3 linked regions of the Homo sapiens genome follow. The protein of the gene in region 1 purifies or fractionates together with the protein of each later gene. This does not show direct contact. Each region holds a gene or a part of one and is shown in the gene's direction. Other genes may lie near its edges. The genes, in order: NUDT12, LZTR1 and TJP2.

What was found.
Region 2: the proteins of NUDT12 (region 1) and LZTR1 purify together in Homo sapiens (affinity purification with mass spectrometry; 3 studies listed by BioGRID and IntAct, with this or other methods). This does not show direct contact.
Region 3: the proteins of NUDT12 (region 1) and TJP2 purify together in Homo sapiens (affinity purification with mass spectrometry; 3 studies listed by BioGRID and IntAct, with this or other methods). This does not show direct contact.

The regions. Positions count from the first base shown.
Region 1 is NC_000005.10:103,561,325-103,565,071, reverse strand, and holds the start of NUDT12 (NAD-capped RNA hydrolase NUDT12), read left to right. Parts: upstream 1-2,282; 5' UTR 2,283-2,369; intron 2,370-3,747. UniProt on the Homo sapiens protein: mRNA decapping enzyme that specifically removes the nicotinamide adenine dinucleotide (NAD) cap from a subset of mRNAs by hydrolyzing the diphosphate linkage to produce nicotinamide mononucleotide (NMN) and 5' monophosphate mRNA.
Region 2 is NC_000022.11:20,980,678-20,984,424, forward strand, and holds the start of LZTR1 (leucine-zipper-like transcriptional regulator 1), read left to right. Parts: upstream 1-1,619; 5' UTR 1,620-1,694; coding exon 1,695-1,894; intron 1,895-2,349; coding exon 2,350-2,412; intron 2,413-3,747. Other genes in the region: AIFM3 (apoptosis-inducing factor 3), read left to right, coding at 70-90, 315-354. UniProt on the Homo sapiens protein: Substrate-specific adapter of a BCR (BTB-CUL3-RBX1) E3 ubiquitin-protein ligase complex that mediates ubiquitination of Ras (K-Ras/KRAS, N-Ras/NRAS and H-Ras/HRAS).
Region 3 is NC_000009.12:69,172,633-69,176,379, forward strand, and holds the start of TJP2 (tight junction protein 2), read left to right. Parts: upstream 1-1,644; 5' UTR 1,645-1,740; coding exon 1,741-1,800; intron 1,801-3,747. UniProt on the Homo sapiens protein: Plays a role in tight junctions and adherens junctions. Acts as a positive regulator of RANKL-induced osteoclast differentiation, potentially via mediating downstream transcriptional activity.

The DNA.
Region 1 (3,747 bases):
GTTCTTTATTATAAAATAATTTGTTAGTAAATGTAGAGTGAATATCAAATTAGAATATCACTATTTGCAACTCATAACAAAATGATGGATGCAGGCAATAATCATGAATGGCTGCTAAAACTATTAGCTGAAAAGTTGATGGAAAAATTTATAATATATTTATCATAAATTTAATATTTAAATAATATAATTATATTTATCATAATTATATATCAATGTCATATATTTATCATAAACATTTACCATATTTTTATAATATTTATATTATTATTTATCATACATGTTATCAGGTTGACAACATCTGAACCCAATGATCAAGTATAACATTAAAAAAAGAGAGACAACCAGAAGTTGTAAGCCTCTTGAAGTAATTCAATACAAAGTAAACTGTAACACCTATAAAGTCTTTTGTGAAAAAAAATCAAACTTTAATCTGAGTAATTCTATAAAGTTAACTACCAGTTTGCAAGAAATACAGGGGGAAAGGACAGCACAGGAATAAAATCTGCAAAATTCAGAATGTGGAAAATTCTACAGAACAAATGATCATTACTCTTTAGTAAATAAACTGCCAGAAAAAAAGGGGAAGAGGAAGGAATCCATAGATTTTTAAAAATCAAATGTGATGTGGAGACTTTGTTCAGATGAATCAACTGAAAAACATATAAAACTTCTGAGGCAAGTGAGTAAATTTGATATTGAATGTTTCTTTTATGTTATTACAGAATTATTGTTAAATTTGTAATACTAGGGATATTGAAGTTGTGTTGTTTTTCAAAGCCCTTATATTTTAGATATAATACATATTTCCAAAAAGTTTACTCTTAAATATTTGTCATCAAAACAATATGGGGTCTGGAATTTACTTCAAAACAATCCTAACAACTGGGAGAACTATATATTAATAGTTGTTGACTCTGGATCATTAATACACGAGGGTTCACTATACTAATCTAACATATGTTTGAATGCAAAGATTGGGTACTCCAAGTGAAGTAACTAATCCTTTCTGACCACCTGTCTGGTCACTGAAATCATTAAAGGCTGAAAACAACTAGTCACATAAAGAAGCATAGGGCGGCCGGGTGCAGTGGCTCGCGCCTGTAATCCCAGCACTTTGGGAGGCCAAGGCGGATGGATCACCTGAGGTCAGGAGTTCCAGACCAGCCTGGCCAACATGGCAAAAACCTGTCTCTACTAAAAATACAAAAATTAGCTGGGCCTGGTGGCGCACACCTGTAATCCCAGCTACTCGGGAGACTGAGGCAGGAGAATCACTTGAAACCCCGGGAGGCGGAGGTTGCAGTGAGCCAAGATCGCACTACTGCACTCCAGCCTGGGTGACAGAGTGAGAACCCATCTAAAAAAAAGAAAAAAAAAAAAAAAACAGCAGCACAGGGCGTTAGAAGCCCTCATGATCAATGTCAACTGGTGCATACAGCTTCACAGTGAGAAGGAGCTTCCAAGGGTAAAATCTGGGTGGGAAACAGTGATCAATTGTAAGAGACCCCTGTAGCTGTTGCTGATTACCAAGGAGAGAGTTTAGTAAAGGAAAAAGCCCTGGTCTGGAAGTTAGAAGACCGCCAACACCTAGTTTTGTAATCTCGGACTCATAACTTCTGTAGGTTTTGGAGCATAAAAGCACAGGAACTGAAATAAAAAATAACGACAATAATTTTGTTGTGGGTGCCCACTCTGCACTTCACAACATCCTAAGAGCTTTGGATACATTATCCTATTTACACCTCACAACCCAAGGAGGTGTTTTGCGCGCTTGATACATACTTTTTAAAGGACTACTGAATAAGTTAGGCGTCAGTATATGATACCAGTTTTCCCATGGGGTGAATGATTAAGGTGTTACAGAGGCCGAATATCTCGTTTAAGAGTGACTTGGTCTAGTCAATAGTCCAGGATTATTTAACAGGAAAGAATGCTTTGAGCACTCAATTGCATTGGACTGTATTGGAGAGAGGGCTAGGAGTTGGGTGGGAGACGCTGGAAAATTTAAAATCGTTTCCTTAGGCCTACAGTTTTCCGATCGCCTGCACCACGTTCTATCTACACATCACAGTCTCAGGAGAAGGATTTTCAGCCCTTCATTCAGCTCCAATCCTTTAGACCGCGATCTCTCCCGCGCCGGCTCCCAAACACTTCCACCCCCAATCTCCACCCCTTCTCCCTTGCGCACAACCTGTGGGCTTCAAACTACATCTCCCATAAAACCGCGGGGGCCCCCCTCCCGCCCCCCCCCCACCCCCGGATCTCCACCGGAAGTCGGGAAGACTGCATCCGGCTCCAGGAAAAGCGAGTGGGATATCCCAATCTTTGGACTGCATCCTGGTTGCCTCTACTGTGGTCACCTTTGGGTTAGTAGAAGCAGTGGGGAGTTAGTCGTCTCATTGCCTCCTCTGGGGGCGGTGACCACTTCCCTGGGCTCTTTGGTTCCCGCGCTGCCCTGCGTGGCCCTGCTGAGTTGTGTGGCGGAGCCTCGTAGTGGTTTGGTGGGCGCAGGCGCGGGAGCCACGGACGCATTTGCAGGGGCTCCCGCGACAGGGCGGAGGTGCGGCGGTACTGAGGTCGTAGAGTTTCCTGCCCAAGCTGAGATGGGGAAAAGGAAGCGCTACTTAGGGTGTGATTTCACCTCGAAAGAAGGAATCTCACAGTAGTGGCAAGAAAGTAAAATATCTTAAGGCATTTTACCATTTTCAGAGACCGTGCACGGGTGGCACTTAATTGGTCTTGAGTGCCCAGGGAGTGGATGAAATTCGTTAATTGATGGTCAGTGATTTCAGTGACAGAGCGATATTTAAGGTCCTGTCCTGTCCCATTCGGTCTGTGTGAGCATGCGGAAGTCATGGGCCCCGGGTTACATGTCAGTAAAAGTGGATGTTGGTTTGTTAAAAATTTATGTCCCTTTACATCTAATATTCTTTTAAATGATTTCTCGGAATAGTCCTTGAGCTTCTTGGAAAACAAGGGCAGCACTTTATTCTGCCTTCAAATCTTTACCTTCTATAACCTGTCAATGAGAATTGAAAAAGTAAATCAAACAGTAGAATTGGGTGTTAGACTTTATGTGCTTCTCTGGAATGAATAATGGTACTATTTCTAGATGGCTTTTCTGCTGAGAAAGCTAGAGGGAAAAGTGTACACTTTCCACTTCCCATCTCCACAGAATAGCATATGCATAAGCATTGCCCTGGAGGTAGTGAATGACGCTGTATTTTTGAAGGACAATTTTGCAGTTACCTGGCGCGGCCTGTGAGAATGTGAGGGAGTGACGGTGACCCCAGAACATGAGACAGTGAAATATTATTCAAACTAAACCTAGCTGAAAAAACTATAATATGGGTTTTTGGAAAATAAACTTAAGAGAAAGACAATTTGGAAGGGAGATCAGTACAGGAGCTGTACAGCAGTGCTTCAAAATAAAGTCCTGAAAATTTGTAGCTTTTGTTATGCATAGTATTTTTAACGTATGTAGAAATTTCAATATGAAAGGAACAGCGAAGTAAATTCTAGAATAAATCAAAAATTATTCTGTCATGTAGATATTACTTCTGGTAATTTAATTTCTAAACAGATTTCCACTGTTAGGTTTCATCCAAGTGTTTCCATGACTGTGAGCAGTTTTAACCTATTTATAAGTAGCAGAAAGACACAAATAGGAAAGGTGAACAGCTCCAAAATGAGACAATTAATCTTTACTCCTTGTTTTCCCTAAATTTTGTTCATACTATTCCT
Region 2 (3,747 bases), on another chromosome or scaffold:
AGGGGACATGATAAATGACATGCTCTCTCCTTGGCCTTCTCTCCGTTTCTCTCTCTTGCCTTCGTGAAGGCTGTTTGTGCTGCACAGCAAGTACGTGTGTCCTTCATGTTGACCGTTCTGAGCCTTTCCCATGTCAGCCCAGACCCTCCACCCAATGGTCTTATCTCCCTCTGTCCAAGTACACCTCCCTGCTGGGCACTAGGGTCTGGCACAGAACAGACCCCCTGCTGTCCTCAAGGGCCAGCTGTTCAGGGTGCCCAGAGTGGAGAGCCTGTTTTCTTCTGTCTTGACCCCTCCTCCCCTCACTCCTGCAGGACTGGCGACATGTCCTGGCTTACGGGGAAAGGATCCTGAGCTCACATGCAGTAGACTTGGGCAGGCAAAGGGGGCACCAAGGGCACAGGCCAAGCCTTGGGGGCAGGTGCCAATCTCCAGTCCCAGGATCCCCCAGGGCAGAACCTGAGCCCTCCCAGTGCTTGCCTTCAGCCACCTGGCTCCCCTCCTGGGAGGCCTCTGCTGGATCCAGAAGATGCTCAACCCTCAAGGCCTCTGCTGCCACTGACAGCTGGCACTGGAGGCAGGACAAGCCCTGCCTCTTCTCCCTCTATTGGGACTGGTCCCCTGAAGAACCCTGCAACACGTTAAACATTACCGTAAAATTAAAACGCACAAATTTGCAGATCTGTATGACTCCCAGTGTAATTGGGCCAATAGGCACAGGACCAGACCACAGGGAAACAGGCACAATCACAGAATGCCAGGTGCCACACCAAGGAAATTTGGCCTGTGAACGCCCAGAGGAGGTAGCAACTAATTCTGCGCCCCAAGCCCTCCCACATCCCTCTCCCCCTCTGCGATCAGCGAACGCTTTTTGCTTTTGGCTCTGAGTTTTGAAGGAAGGGTATTCCAGGTAGAAGGGACAACATGCCCAAAGGTCTTGAGATAGTAAATGCTCCTTCAGAGGTGGCTCATGCTTGACACTTTGGGGCATTTGCCCACTTAGGGCTGTGGGAGCTGTGTCCTGAGACAGACCCCATGCTTTTCATAGCCGGAGCATTCTCAATCCCCATGTCGGAGGTGAAGGAGCTGAGGCCCTGCTAAGTAGGAATGAGAATCCAGAGGCTCCTCGCCGGGCTGCCTCTCAGTCAGTAAGAAAGCCAAGGGGAGAGGGGAGTTGCTGGGGGTCAGGGCTGAGGGCGCTAGCAGGAAAGGGAGCGTTGAGCCGCCTGCAGAGGCCGCTGCGAGCCCGGAACCCTCCATGGGGGATCCCGGCAGCGGCAGACGATCCAGGCCGGAGCCACGCGCAGACCCAGGGCATGCCGGGAACTGCGAGCCGGCCGCGGGTCTTCGGGCTGCGTGGGCCTGGGAGGCGCCGGGAAGAGCAGTCGCGACGGGGCTAGGGACGACACACTGCATTCACTGGAAGGGACAACGCAGCGCCAGTACATAGCCTGAAACGCTCCCCAGAAGGTCCCACGCTCGCCGCGCGGTCGACAACCGCATCCTGCGCTCGCCCGCGGTGTCTCGGCAAGCGGTAGGCTTGTCGGGAAGAGCTGGAGGGCGCAAGTGCGGCGCTGGCCGGACGTGCCGCACCGTCAGCGCAGGGCTCGCCGGGAAATGTGGTTTCTCCAGCCGGCCCGGGGCGGTGGCCGCAAGTTGGGCTTACAGCGCGGCCGATCCGGCGTGGACCCGGGATGGCTGGACCGGGCAGCACGGGGGGGCAGATCGGGGCTGCGGCCCTGGCAGGCGGCGCGCGGTCCAAGGTAGCCCCGAGCGTGGACTTCGACCATAGCTGCTCGGACAGTGTCGAGTACCTGACGCTCAACTTCGGGCCCTTCGAAACAGTGCATCGCTGGCGGCGCCTCCCGCCCTGCGACGAGTTCGTGGGTGCCCGGTACGGTGGGCTTCATGGGGTCCTGAGGACAGGAAGGGCGATCTGCGAGGGTCCCAGGGCGGGTCCAGGGGCGAAGCCGGGGGGTGGTGTCCTGGGGTAGGATCTGGTAATGAGGTGGATGGTGCTGTACAGGACGCTGTTCAGGGCAGGGGAGAGGGTTCCGAGGGAGTCCCAGAGCCCGATGTCCCGGGACAGGGTACTGGAACTAAGTTGTGTTTGTGGATATTGGGCTGGGGTCCCAGGTGCTCTGAGGTGGGGTGAGGAGTCCAGAGAGTCCTGGAGCCGTGTCAGGGGTCCTCACTTGCAGGATGATTGGTGTTATCTTAGAAGATGATGGATCTTAGCAGTTGAGAGGTGATACCTAACTTCCGTGGCAGCTCTCCTGCTTAGTCCCATTCCTTGGGTGCCCCCCAGGAGGGTCCTGTCCTTACCGCCCTCCACTCCTTTCTTTCCAGGCGCAGCAAGCACACAGTGGTGGCCTATAAAGATGCCATTTATGTATTTGGTGGAGACAATGGGTGAGTGAGTCTCAGCATCAGTGTTTGGACCAGGTAGGGAGAAGTACTGTGGTCAGGGACTGGGCCTGTCCAGCTCCATTACTGTCCTTTCAGATGCTAGCTGGTGCCTCTAAGCTTCAGTTTCCCCATCTGTGAGATTCCTTGCACTCACCTCCCTGGTCGTGGTGAGGATTAAATGAGATCCTGCACTCATGGTCCTCAGCACAGCTTCCAGTGGGTGGCACATGCTCAGTATGTGGAAATGTCCCTCTTCTGAGTAGATGCAGCCTTGAAAGAAACACAACCACCCTTGCGGCCAGCCCTGCCAGGCACTTTTCTTTCCCTGTGCCTCATCGGTATGGAGGACACAGTTTTATTTATTTCATGCATTTTTCACTTTTTGTGGGGGTTTTCCCAAATTGCTCCAAACATCAGGCAACAACGTGATGTTTTGTTGGTGGGCACACCTCCTTTCACATAAACTGTCTCCACTTAAGTTGTGGCTGGTTTCCTTATGCAGAGGGTGGAGTATTTGCACATGACTAGTTGTGTCCATGTGTCCTAGCCCTGCCTCTCAGCCCCAGGAACTAGCATGAAGCCCTGGAAGGTCTGGCCTCTTACTGGCTCTGCAGCCTTGGTCCTGTAGGCCTCCTTGGGGGGCGGGCTTGAGGATGGTGGGGTAGTCTGGACCCCACCAGGATCTGCATACTGGGCAGAAGAGCCTCCTTGGGCATGGTCCCCTGGCTTCAAGCCTGTCTTCCTCCCACTCTCTTTCCCCAGGAGTAGCCGGTGGGGCCCATTTACAAAAGCAAGTCAGAGTATGCTCCTCCTTGGCTCATCCTCCTGTAATGCCTCCCTGCCTCTCTGAGTAAAAGCCCAAGTCCTCATGAGAGTCTGCTGCTCCTCTGCCCTCAGTCCCTCACTGCACTGGGGCGGCACGGGCTGCCTTGCTATGTTTGGATTGTACCAAGTGCCCCCCTGCTCAGGCCCTTGCACTGCCCATTCTCTCCTCTCACCTTCCTGCCCCTCCTCTGATGTTTCTTGTGACTGAGGCCTTACTTGGCCATCTGGACCAACTGGAGACCATTGCTTCCCCTCCATACCTCTTACCATCTTCATTTGTTCCTGAGGCACACAGATGTTGGTTATTATCCATCTCTTCAGTCAAGGCAGGGCCTGTGCTCCTTTTACCATTGTATCCTGGCATCTAGAAAACTCCATAAATGTTTGTCAAATGAAGGAATGAAATGAAGAAGAGATGCCTACCCACAAGCATTTACTGCAGCCTTAATGAGAACCCTCCAAACCAGAAAGGGCTTTAGTGTCCAGTACAAGGCAGCAAGTGGGAAATGGGGG
Region 3 (3,747 bases), on another chromosome or scaffold:
GCCCACATCATTAAGGTGTGGCCACCTTTCAAGTGCTATCATTTTTATTAGTCAGCACCACCTAATTTGGGAAATATTTTATTTTTTTTTCCTTTTTTTTGATTAAAACAATTTTTAAAAAATAGAGATGGGGTCTCACTATGTTGCCCAGACTGGTCTCAAACTCGTGGGCTCAAGTGATTCTCCTGCCTTGCCTTCCCAAAGTGCTGGGATTACAGGCATGAGCCACCGTGCCTGGCCAGATTTGGGAAACATTTTATAAATAGGTGCTTAGATCAGGAGAGCAATGCCTTACATCAGGAATACAACCAAAATGTCTAAGTCCGGAGACTCGAGGCAAAGTGGGAAACGTTACTCACAGTGCTTTTTATCCAGAGGCGTGGACTTAGTTACTCCAAAGGAGTCCAGAAGCATAACACTTCTGGAGAGGCATCTACTGGACTTGTTTTTCCACGAAACTTCTAGACTTGTTTTGATCAGGCAGGAAGTGAAGCAACTTTTCAGGGAGAGAGCCCAGCATCTGCATCTCCTCTGGGACAGACCACACCTTTTACCTTCTACTTGTGAGCCTAGGACGAGTTTTGCTTTCCAATTAAGGGAAGAGCAGGGCAGGCAAAACTATTCTCTTACAAGATGGTTTTTTAAGATTTCAAACCCAAGGTTATATTTTTAATCGGTACCTGTTTGGATTCTCCAAATTAATTTATATGCTCTTAAAATAAAGACACTTAACGTCACTGCACAATTCTTTGCACATGGAGGACTTCGAAAGGAATAAGCACACTGAATTGCATTAGATGAATCCTGTCAGATAAGCACTTGTGACCTACTGGCAACCTTTTATAAGCTGATGATGGGAGAGGAGTTTCAATCTCTTTATTGGAGTTGTTGGAAATGTGCCAAAGAGATAACCTGGAATATATTGTCCTGAAAAGTCCTGTTTTAATATTTAATACGAACATCTTATAACCCTCGGAATTCGGGTAGGCAGTTGTTGGGCTGAGAAATGTGGGGTACAAGGCCGTGTATGTGTTGGTTAGCCGGGCAGGCCTCTAGACAGGACCTAAAACTTTGAGGTTTTCCCAGTTCGACTCTTCGTAGGAGAACTGAAGCTGCCTGTGTGAGGCCCTGCGAACCTCGCCAAAAAGTCTTCCTACAGGATGCCCCCGCGACCTCACCGGGGAAACACCGCGGACAGTCGGGCCAGCAGCGCCCGGAGCTCACTCCAGGTCTCCAAACTTGCAGCACTTCCCAGAGCGCGCGCGCTCGGAGCGGGACCTGCTTGCTCCAGTGCACGCCGCGGAGCGAACCATCGGGCTGGCGGGGGTGGAGGGGTGCAGGCGTGGGGGCTGCGGGCCGCTCGGGCCTTGGGCTTCTCCTGCCGCCGCCGCCGCCTCCCGCCCCCGGCCAGGAGTCGCGCGTGACGCGGTTCGCCGCAGGAGCCTCGAAGGCGCGGCGCCGGCGAGCCCTTCCCCGGCAGGCGCGTGGGTGGTAGCGGCCAATTTGACAGTTTCCCGGGCCGGGCGGCCAGCGCGGAGGCGCCACGCTCGGGTCGGGGGCGGGCTGACGCCGCCGCCGCCGCGGGAGGAGGGACAAAGGGGTGGGTCCCCGCGGGTCGGCACCCCGGCGGTTGGGCTGCGGGTCAGAGCACTGTCCGGTGGTGCCCAGGAGGAGTAGGAGCAGGAGCAGAAGCAGAAGCGGGGTCCGGAGCTGCGCGCCTACGCGGGACCTGTGTCCGAAATGCCGGTGCGAGGAGACCGCGGGTTTCCACCCCGGCGGGAGCTGTCAGGTTGGCTCCGCGTAAGTGCCTCCTTGTGCCGCGCGGTTGGGAGGAGGGTCGTGAGCGTGAGCGTGGGAGCGCTGGGGGCTCTGCTCGCGTGCTGCTCTGAAGTTGTTCCCCGATGCGCCGTAGGAAGCTGGGATTCTCCCATCCGGACGTGGGACGCAGGGGAGGGGTAGGTTTCACCGTCCGGGCTGATGACTCGTGGCCTCCGGGGCTCCTGGAACCTTTACTCTGAAGTCACTTGGGCTGGAGATTAAGGCGCGAGTAGGGGACACTGTCTTGAACCCGGTGTCCTGGATTTCTGCTGGCTTGGAGGCATCTCGTGTCTGTTGTGTCGCTTGCATGTCTTTGTGTTTTCCTTCTCTATTTCAAACCACACTCGGTATTGATGCAAAGTTACAGGCTTGTGTACGTGAGAGAAACTGAAAACTCATCACAGAGCAGAATCCCTTTTCCCTTTCAATCAGCTGCGTCTGTAATAGAAGTAAAAGTTGTTTTTTTTTTTTTTTTTTTCCAGTAGGGAATGGGGATGGAGGTTTGGAAGGACCCACAAAAGAGGAGTGTGATGAATGCTTTGTATTCTAGTACTAGCCTACCTGTCACCAGTTCTTTTTATGTCTTCATTTGTCAAGTTTCTGCTTTTACACGGTAGTTTAAGTTATAAATAATCAGGGATTTCTACCACAGGGTTTTAACATTCTTGAAATGTGGACAAACTTGGGAGTGAGTGCTCCCGCGCTTAGTAATGGAATACAGCCTCCCACCTCTATTTCAGCTTCAGTTCTTAGGCTAGGCTGCTTTTCTGGCAGCTGTCTGGCCTGAGTAATGATGGTTGTGGTTTCCCTGAAGTTCCCAGCGGAGAGTCATCCCATGATAGAAACTGCCTTGCGCTTCTCACTCACGCTCTCAGCCCGGGGAATCCCAGCGGGGAGGAGGGAGGGAGGTCGTTTTCTTCAGCTCCCCAGGTGGTCTGTGCTGGGTGTGCTGACGGTCCTTTTGGGAAAACAGGTCCACCTTTGCCAGCGTAATTCAGAAAGAGATGTAATTTTCTGAGAGCACACACCTGGGCAGGAGATCGCTTGAAGTGAGAAATTCGTAGTGGTAAATGTATTTGTAGCAAAGTACCACTGCATATCCTGCTTGAGAGGATGAAATTTGATTATTTAGTAAGTTTTCATGAACAACTCCACTTCAGTGTGGGGATTACGCAGATGAGCAAGAGCGTGGCTCTGTCACACAGTCCCGTTGGGAAAGCCTGCAACTCATTAAGAATCCGATGAGTGCCATTTAGAAATGTGGACAGGGTACTGGAGCTTCCTCATTGTGGGGAGATGGCAGAAGCGGAGGTGCTTTACTAAAGCACCGGTGGCTTTTGAGGTGTTTCTTGTGTTTTTTTCAGAACTACTTCTGCAGTGGGGCCACTTTATTTCTTTTCAGAGCTACTTATGCAGATTGATGAAGGGGAACTTTCCCCTCTGAAATGCTGCTGTAACTTTTTCAGTACCATCCAGATATTATAATACTGAATGAGCCCCTACTCCTGCCAGTCACTGTGGGGGATACAAAGATGAACAAGATTCAATTTCTGCATTTAGGGGTCTAGTGGACCTGAAACTGTTAGACTTTACTCTGCAATCTGTGTCGGGATTCCTGAGACTGAGGGAGGGAATGTATGATGCCGATGCACACTCTGCAATACAGAAATTTAGCAAAGAGTGGGATTGGTCCTATATGCATTCCCTTCAGGGGATTCTTGCTGGGAATAAAGGGCATTTGAACAGTTACCTCACCCGAGCAAGCCACTATAGAAAATGGGGCCAGTAATGCGCCCACCTCACCGGGCTGAGTGAGGTCTGAATGAAATGACAGAGAGTACAAGGCATGTGGTGGATGCTACGTAAATGGTGGTAGCTAGTAATAGGAACAAAACGGGTGCTGAAAACTCTTAAGTGTTGGGTCCTGGG